Linked DNA regions of Homo sapiens: region 2 is linked to region 1. The links come from fine-mapping of genetic effects on gene expression. Tissue or cell type: whole blood. Region 1 holds a variant in brackets; the other region holds the start of a gene. All regions are shown on one strand. Distances are between the middles of the regions.

Region 1 (4,163 bases):
ACTGCTATTTTTATAATGGAAAAGAATTTTTCTTAAAGAAGCAATTTGGTGATGGGGCCCTTAGAATGTCCTTGAAAACAGCTGGAATTTACTGCTAGCATATATTGGGTCAGATGAATGAGGGAGCATGGGTTTGGCTGATTTGCAATGTTCAAGAAATATTGATATTCTTAGAAGACAATACAGAATATATGTTGGGTCTTATTTTCCAAAATGTCAAAGTGTCCTTCATATGCCTTTTGTTCTGTGAGATAACAGTTGTTGGTGATCCTGAAAGATGTTTTAGAACTTTCATCCTGCAGTATCTGAAAGGAAATGTAGCCAAGATTGGAAAATTTAACCTCCATACTCTACTGGCTTCTTTAGTTGGAGTAGTGGTCAATATGTTCTTGCTGTTGGAATATACTTAGGCGAGAGAGCCACACAACCTGCCTGATGAACAACTAAAATATTGACTGGCAATGGTAACAAAATAAAACATGTTCCCCTCCACCTGTCTCTTCCTTCTTTTCTCAAATCCCTGGAACTGTATAGATTTTTCAGGGCTGTTCTCCTGAGCTATTGATGAAATGAAAATAATAGCACTTGTGTAGCAGTCCTTAGAAAACTGTAATGGTATTGAGCTGAGGCTGGAATCATATAAAATAAATACTAGAGCTTTGATTCCTCTCTCATTTAATCTTTTCCTGGGCTTTTCTAGAGGAGAGTCAAACTAAGATTTAGACAAATATAAATAGAAGCAAGTCACACAGTGTAATGTTGCAACCCAGATATAACTTGAACCCAGTCTTTTACTTGATAAAGAGGAGATAATTGTAATTGTTGTTAATCTATCAAACACCTTTCCCTTTTCAGAAGGGTTTTAAAAAATAAAGTAGTTCTTAAGGCATGTTCACTTTCTATCTACCTAAAAGTGCTAATCTGTAAGTGCCCTACTATATATAACACTGAGAAAATTTCTGCCTTATCAGAGGAGGGCATGCCCAGGATTGGTGCCAGGTGTTGTGTTATGCTAGGCTGCCTCCAAAAGTTACTCTCAAAAACTACTCTTCAGTTGGGCCCTTTGTGGTCAGGAAAAAAAAAAAGTGATACAGTATAATGAAAGAGAGGTCAAAACAGTTAAGTAATTTAGAAATAAAAAGACATACCAAAACATTGATTCTCTATTATTATCAGGGACTATGGCGTATTTTAAATTCTGTAAATTTTATTTTTCCAGAGGTTGCAAATGGCCTGTAAATGCTTCAGTTATTAACAACAACAACAACACATACACACATACACACTGGCCAACAATTCCTCTTTGTTACCCTTTTTCTACTGCAAATTTTATCTCCTCCTCACCAAAAAACAAACTGCATTTTGATTTTGGGAAAATTGTTCTAAAATGGGACTTTAAAAATAATTCCTGGCTGGCTTGACTGGATTGGCAGATGTCCAGCAATGCCAAACCATTTGCCATCTGCCAGTAGTAAGCATGGTTACCACTTTTAATCGTTTAGCTCTCTATTTCAGGTTGCTCATATTCAGTACAAATTATGAATATTCGCCTTCCAGGGATGAATTAATTCTTGGGCCAGATTGTTCCTGTTCCATTTAATAAAATGTCTTTCCTCCTATATGAATATTCCCCTTAAAATGAGCTATTATACAACTCACATCTTATTAGTAGGGCCACTTTTAAAGGTGCTTTGCTATTTTCATTTTCTGCTTCTAGATGAACAGCTATATTACAAAGCATTCTTTAAATGTGCTGTTTTGTGCTATGTAAGATCACCATTTTAATTAGAGATCAGTAACAGTATTTCGTCATTTCCCTCTTCCATCCTGGACAATAATTTGATACAATAAAGCAGTTACACTGGGCTCTGGGTGGGAATAGAGCTGTGAGAGTTAGACTTAAACTTTTGTAGAAGAGAAGACTTAATTCTTGCATTTTGTACATAAAATTAGGTCAGTG[T/A]CTTGTAGAACATTATCACTGCGTCTCAGATCTCACTTGCCAGCACGTAGGAAGTTTGTTTTGGTTTCAAAATGTACTTTACCCCATGGTGGCTGGCAGGGTACAATACTATTGACATCACTGTGTTTCAAATAGAAAGTTAACAAGTAGCTACTGTTGTGATTGCAGATTGCCTTCCCAGTCCCTGTGAGAGAATGCTTTTTCTTTTGGACAGCAACACTTCTCAGCCCCTTGGTACCATTAAATCAGCCAATGGGGGCTGCCAGAATAGAGATGAACACCAACAAAAGGCCAAAGAGTAGAAAAACTGTTAATAAGGCAAAAATCTTTAATCAGTTTCCAAATTGATGTGAAAGATAATTAAAAAATATTCTCTCCCATCGATGGCTAAGTTTTGACAGTAGTCCAGGTTCAGAGCCTGATCTCTCTAGAGAGGAGTATCCCTTCCCTCTACCCAGACCCCTGGAAAGTTGCCAAAGGAAAATAAGCTATTTTGTATTTAGAACAAATTGCCACTGTTTTCTCCAGTGATGTAGCCCTATTTCCCAGACTTTGAAACTTGGAATACAGAAAGTTCTTGTGTGACCAAAGAAGAAATATGGTGAATGAATGATCAAGTTTTTCTTTTTAACTAAATCCTTATAAACAGATAAGAGAGGGGAAGTATGCATAGAAACTAAATTTAGCACAGAATGGATGTCAAGTGAGCAATTTCTGTTAAATCACTTTGGAGTTTGGGTTCCTTGTGGGAGTTCCAGTGAAGAACAAATGCCTCTGGAACAAGATTTAATTATTTTTTTTTTTTTCAAATGAGGCTGTCAAAAATGAAGTCTTCCTTAGACATGAATGCAGGATAATTAAAAAAAATAGTTGTTTATATGTTCTGCACTATAGTCTTCAACTTAGCAAGCAGTCCATGGATCTGGTAAGCATACACTAGTTTCTCATTTATTACATGGGATTAAGAACTGTTGACTTAATTTTTTTCTTCTTTGCATTGTGGAATATTGCTTTTTAGACTTTCCCTTCTCATACCTTGGTTTTCTTAGCTGTTTGTTTTCCTAGTCCTAGGCCCCTTTCACTGTAAATACTTTGATAAAGTCATTCTGTTGTAAAAGCTGCAGTTCTTAAACCCTTTGCTTCACTATTAAAAAAGGTGTTGGCCGGTTGCGGTGGCTCATGCCTATAATCCTAGCACTTTGGGAGGCCGAGGCGGGCAGATTGCCTGAGCTCAGGAGTCCGAAACCACCCTGGGCAATATGGTGAAACCCCGTCTCTAGTAAAATAAAATAAAAAAAAATTAGGCTTGGTGGCACATGCCTGTAATCCCAGCTACTCAGGAGGCTGAGGCAGGATAATTGCTTGAGCCTGGGAGGCGGAGGTTGCAGTGAGCCGAGATCGCGCCACTGCACTCCAGCTTGGGCAACAGAGTGAAACTACGTCTCAAAAAAAAAAAAAAGTGTTGACTCTCATCAAGAGTTAGGTTGGAGACTGTTGGTTACTCTACATGTAGACATCTTTGGTGGTATGCACCTTATTAACATTTGCTGGTGATTTCAGCTGCACCAGAAAAAAAAAAGGTTAAGAGTTCTGGCATTCATAAATAGATCTCTCACAAATGCTGGCCTGGCATCTGATTATACTGTTTGGAGGTCCTGGTGTTGATTGTTACCTCAACTTTGGTGAGTTAGAGAGTCCCAGAAACATCCACTAGAAGTATTACATCTCTCCTCCCCACTGTGTGCCAGTCATTCTGTTTATTTGAAAAACAGAAATGACTAAAAGTATGGATTCACTCTCAATTGAAATACAGTGTGATTAGTATGAAATCAAGTATCATCTGAGGAAGGAGTATGGCAAGGATGATCTTGTGGAAGAAATTGTTTGGCCATGGCCTGAAAATGAGTTAGATGCCCACCAGGTGGACATTTGGAGAGAATGCATTCCAGGTAGAGATATTGGCAAGTATAAAAGCACATTTGGTTATGGAAGAGGTTTGCAAGGGTATGAGTTATGGGAAATGAGGCTGGAAAGGTGGTAGGCAGAGGACTAAATTATAGTCTTCAAACAGGTAAAGATTATACTACTGACAACTTGAAAAATCGTTATAGCATTTAGCTCAGTGGTATAATAAGGCACTATTGTTTACTGATGATAATTGTTATTGACTGAGTGGCACTTCATGTTCTTCATATTTCTGAGT
Region 2 (4,163 bases), 62 kb before region 1:
TCGTCGTTCCACATACGTGTTACCAAAATGAATATATGCAACTAAACTATATGCGAGACTCTGGGGGCACAGTAACACAGACTTTGTGAAACAAAAAGGCATTTCTCCTGCTTCCACTGTGTCTCTTGTGGTGCCATTGTCTGATGCTAAGAACTCACATAATAACAAAAAACAATGCCCCTATGATGGGGGGAAAACTTGATTTGGCACCAGCCGTGGTGTTTTCCATGGGAATGATGGTGGGGGCTGTGGCCGACTGTGGGAATAGTGCAAATCAGCACTTTTTTGTAGATTTTCTTCAAGCCATTGTTTATTTTGGCTTTGGTCAGATCCGTGGCCCAGCTTGAAGATTCCCACTGGGCTTTCTGAAACTCGCAGACCTATGAGAGATGGAACAGGGATAAATAAATAATTACAAAACACCCTTCCCCCACCATGGCACTCATGCATGCGTGTGCCTGTCTTGGTGGTGCATGTATGTTGCAGTACTATACATCTGACCCATGCCACCAATGGGCAATTAAAGAGAAAGCAAGGTTTTCTCTGGGCTTAGCTGGTTCATTGTCTCAGTACCATCTTTCATTTGGGGCAAGAGAGATCAGAGCTGTTTCACACAAGGGCCAGTTTTTGCAAAATGGCATTGGAGAAAGCTTGTTTGAAACTGTGCATACATGAGGTCTTCCTAACATTTTTAGATGTTTACAGGCATTTCAACACGAATAACTCAGGTTGTGGTTCTCACAGAAGCAAAAAATCAGTAATTGTTCTAATAATGGAAGATAAACTTTTTTTTTTTTTTTTTTTGAGACGGAGTCTGGCTCTGTCGCCCAGGCTGGAGTGCAGTGGCGCTATCTCGGCTCACTACAAGCTCCGCCTCCCGGGTTCACGCCATTCTCCTGCCTCAGCCTCCGGAGTAGCTGGGATTACAGGCATGCGCCACCACGCCCGGCTAATTTTGTATTTTTGGTAGAGACAGCGTTTCTCTATGTTGGTCAGGCTGGTCGCGAACTCCCAACCTCAGGTGATCTGCCCGCTTTGGCCTCCCAAAGTGCTGGGATTACAGGCGTGAGCCACTGCGTCCGGCCATCAAGAGTTTTTATGACAATGTGTATGAAGCTGCCTTTGAGTAGGGTGGCTGCATCGCACACCTCCAGGGGGCAGCATTGTCTTTGTCCTCTATATAAATGGTTCCCCTGGAGGAAAACTCCAGGTGACCTTGCAAAGTAACCATATTTAGATGGGCTTGTCATAGAGATATTTTCCAAGGAAGTGCAGAAGAGTCTTGTTCACTACATCTTGTTCCTTTCTTAGATACAAGTTACATCAGAATAGGGGACTCAGGCTCTTGCCTGGGTCTGGATTGGAAGAAAAAGAGCTTACCATGGGCCAGAGTGTGCTAAGTCAGATACAATACACAAGCATCTTATCACACATTTCAATGATGTGGAAACTTAGGCCAAGAGAGGTTAAGGGACTTGTCCAAGCTCACACAGTCTGTATGCAGCAGAGCTGGGATTTGAACCCTTTCCTATGGCACCCTAGAGCAGCCTTCAATCATCCCCTGACACCTCCAGTACTTCCCAGGGCTGGAAAGCATCCATGATTGCGGACAGCAGTGGCAGTGAAACAATGTCAGCTGGGGTAGGGGTTTTCAGAGGCAAAAGGTGGAATTCAGCTGGGGAGGGGGGTGGTTCCTGAGCTGCCACTTCTGCCTCTCAAATTAAAGGGAGCCAGGTGTGGAGGCATCCTGGTGTGAGCTTTGCACAGCTGAACCAAGGCTGGGCAGAGGAGTGTGGAGAGGGATGCTGACATCTCCTCCCACTTCTGGAAAATAACTTTGCATTTGAAGGGAGAAAGGCATGAGTAAATCTGTAACTCGGATTTGGACGGCCTGGGATTTCATTTGACTGTGTGAAGGCACACACAGGTGCCTCGCAAGTGTGTGCGTGATTACGTATGTATGTGTGTCTGTGAGTAGGAGTGTTTGTGTTGGGGGTGGGGGGATCTTCTGGTTACACACTGGTTCCCTTCTTCCCATTTGGATTGGGGAGCTTTTATTTATTTATTTTTAAGTCATAGCAGCCACCATGTATGGGGACCTAACTATGTGCCAGGCATTGTGCTGGACACTTTCTGAGGCATTATTTTTCTGTGAAAAAAGTAGTTTGTTTTTATGCAGGTGCACCCAGAGACATCAGGTATTTTTTTCCATTCCGGTTAAAAGACAGTGTTCTACTCTGTGGTAAGCCTTGGGGAGAGGCAGGGAAGCCTGCGGGGACGGGCAGGGGCGGTCCCTGCCTCGCTCGCTAGTCTCCACCTTTTATTTTGACCGGTCCGATGGCGACAGGCTCGCACTAGGACCCAGGCGCCAGAGTGCCTCCGTCTGTCCTGTAGGTTCATTCAATCTCCCATACACACAGACTCACAGCGAGACCGACACACACTCCCATACACTCACACACACAACTGCAGGCAGCGAGGCTCGGGAAGTCAGGCCGGCTTTTCGCCCCGGCGCCTTCTCTGCTCCAGCCGGCCGGGTCTCCCTGGGGGCCCGGAGCTCGGCCGGGCCGCGCAGCCCCGTTAGAGGACGAGCTCGGCGGACCCCCGCTCCTCCATGGGCAAACGCGGGCGGCCGCGCAAGGAGGCGCGCTGCGAGGGCGCGGGGCTGGCCCCCGCCGCGCCCCCGGCTGTGCCCCCCGCCGTGGCCGCGCCCCAGCCCCCGGCCCTGCCCGAGGACCCCGCTGGGGCCAAGCCCAGGTGCCCCTTCTCAGACATTTTCAACACCAGCGAGAACTCGATGGAGAAGCACATCAACACTTTTCTGCAGAACGTGCAGATTCTGCTCGAGGCCGCCAGCTACCTGGAGCAGATCGAGAAAGAAAACAAAAGTAAGTTTGGGGGCCCCTGCTCTTCCTCGGCGCCCGGTTCTTTCTTTCTCGCCCACTTGGGCGACCCCTGTTGCGAGCTCGGCCCGTCCCCCCCCCGCCCAACATACACATCCAGCCCTTGGCAGTAAAGCCGATGACACCGGAGAAAGGACACGCACGCACAAAGCTGCTAAAGATGTAACAAAGACGGGCGAGGGGGAGAGGGGCCTGTCGGTGCGTCGGTCTGTCCTCTCCGGCGGGCTGGGGCTGGGAGGATGGCCCAGCGGAGGAGCGGGGGAGTGTTGTTGTTTGCTGACAACTGAGCCGAGAGCTCATCTCTTTGAGGTCGCTTTTCTTCCTTTTTTTTTTTTTTTTTTCCGGAGCCTTCTCAGGCAGACAAGTGTTGTTTTTCTGTTGCTCGTTCCTGGGTGGGGTGGGGATTAGAAGCCGAAAGTTGGAAACCATAGGCAGAGCTCAGAGGTTCCAGAAAGAAAACACACAGACACACACTACAACAATAACAACCAAACAGCTCTCCACGGCGTGGGCTCGGCTCTGTCTCTCTCTCTCCCTCCTACTTCGCCTTTTTCCTTCCCTCTAGCAGCAGGACTGGGCTCAGGCCATCACGTCTACGGACACAGTCCCCCTGCACGTCCGTTGCCGTGGGGTGCCACCGCCGCCCCCCCCCCCCCAAAGAAGGAGGCCGGCGGGGCCAAGCAACGCCAGCAGCTCGCCCCGGACACGCCGTCCTGAGCCCGGGAAACTTGGCCGTGGGGACGCGGCTAGAAGGAAACTTTGGGATCTTTGAGAAACAATAGTTGGGGAAGAAGGTGTGGGCTGTTCTGTGCTTTTTCTTTATTTTCCGGGAGACGGCTCTTGAGTGAGCGCACAGGGCAAGCAAGGCAAACGCCTTCCTGGTCGATTTCTACTCCCCCCACCCGCCCACCCCCAGATTCACGTGGATAGTAGTGCGTGGGTGGGGGTGTGCTGGGAACCCCACCCTGGCCTGGCTTCTTTTTTGTATTTATTTGTTTCATTTTTGCCCCTACCAGCCAGGTCACCCAGCTTTCCCCAGGCAGTCGACTCAGCGCCCTAACGGGGGCACGCGTGTGCAGCGTATCCAGCACCGTCCTCAGAATAATAGCTGTGAAAAGGAGGAAGGGAACTAGGCAGACAGACCGACAGATAGGGGGAAACCGGGATGTTTAATGTGTCCGAACAAGTAGGAAGATCAATGAGGCGCGAGTGTGTGTGTGTACGTGTGCGCGTGTGTGTGTGAGAGAGAGAGAAAGAAAG

What was found. PIP is the estimated chance that this variant, and not a neighbour inherited with it, causes the effect.
Region 2: it holds the start of MXI1, and the variant in region 1 is fine-mapped to the expression of MXI1 in whole blood (TOPMed, PIP above 0.99).

The regions. Positions count from the first base shown.
Region 1 is chr10:110,267,687-110,271,849 of GRCh38, forward strand. The region is part of intron 3 of MXI1 (MAX interactor 1, dimerization protein); the gene reads left to right. Among named protein-coding and RNA genes, the nearest start is that of SMNDC1, 35 kb to the right of the region's middle. The variant T/A (reference allele first, on the strand shown) is at 1,961.
Region 2 is chr10:110,205,195-110,209,357 of GRCh38, forward strand. It overlaps MXI1 (MAX interactor 1, dimerization protein), which reads left to right and starts at 2,411. Exons shown (of 6, transcript NM_130439.3): 1 at 2,411-2,888. The coding sequence starts at 2,615. RefSeq lists an enhancer at 492-992 and a silencer at 2,582-2,661.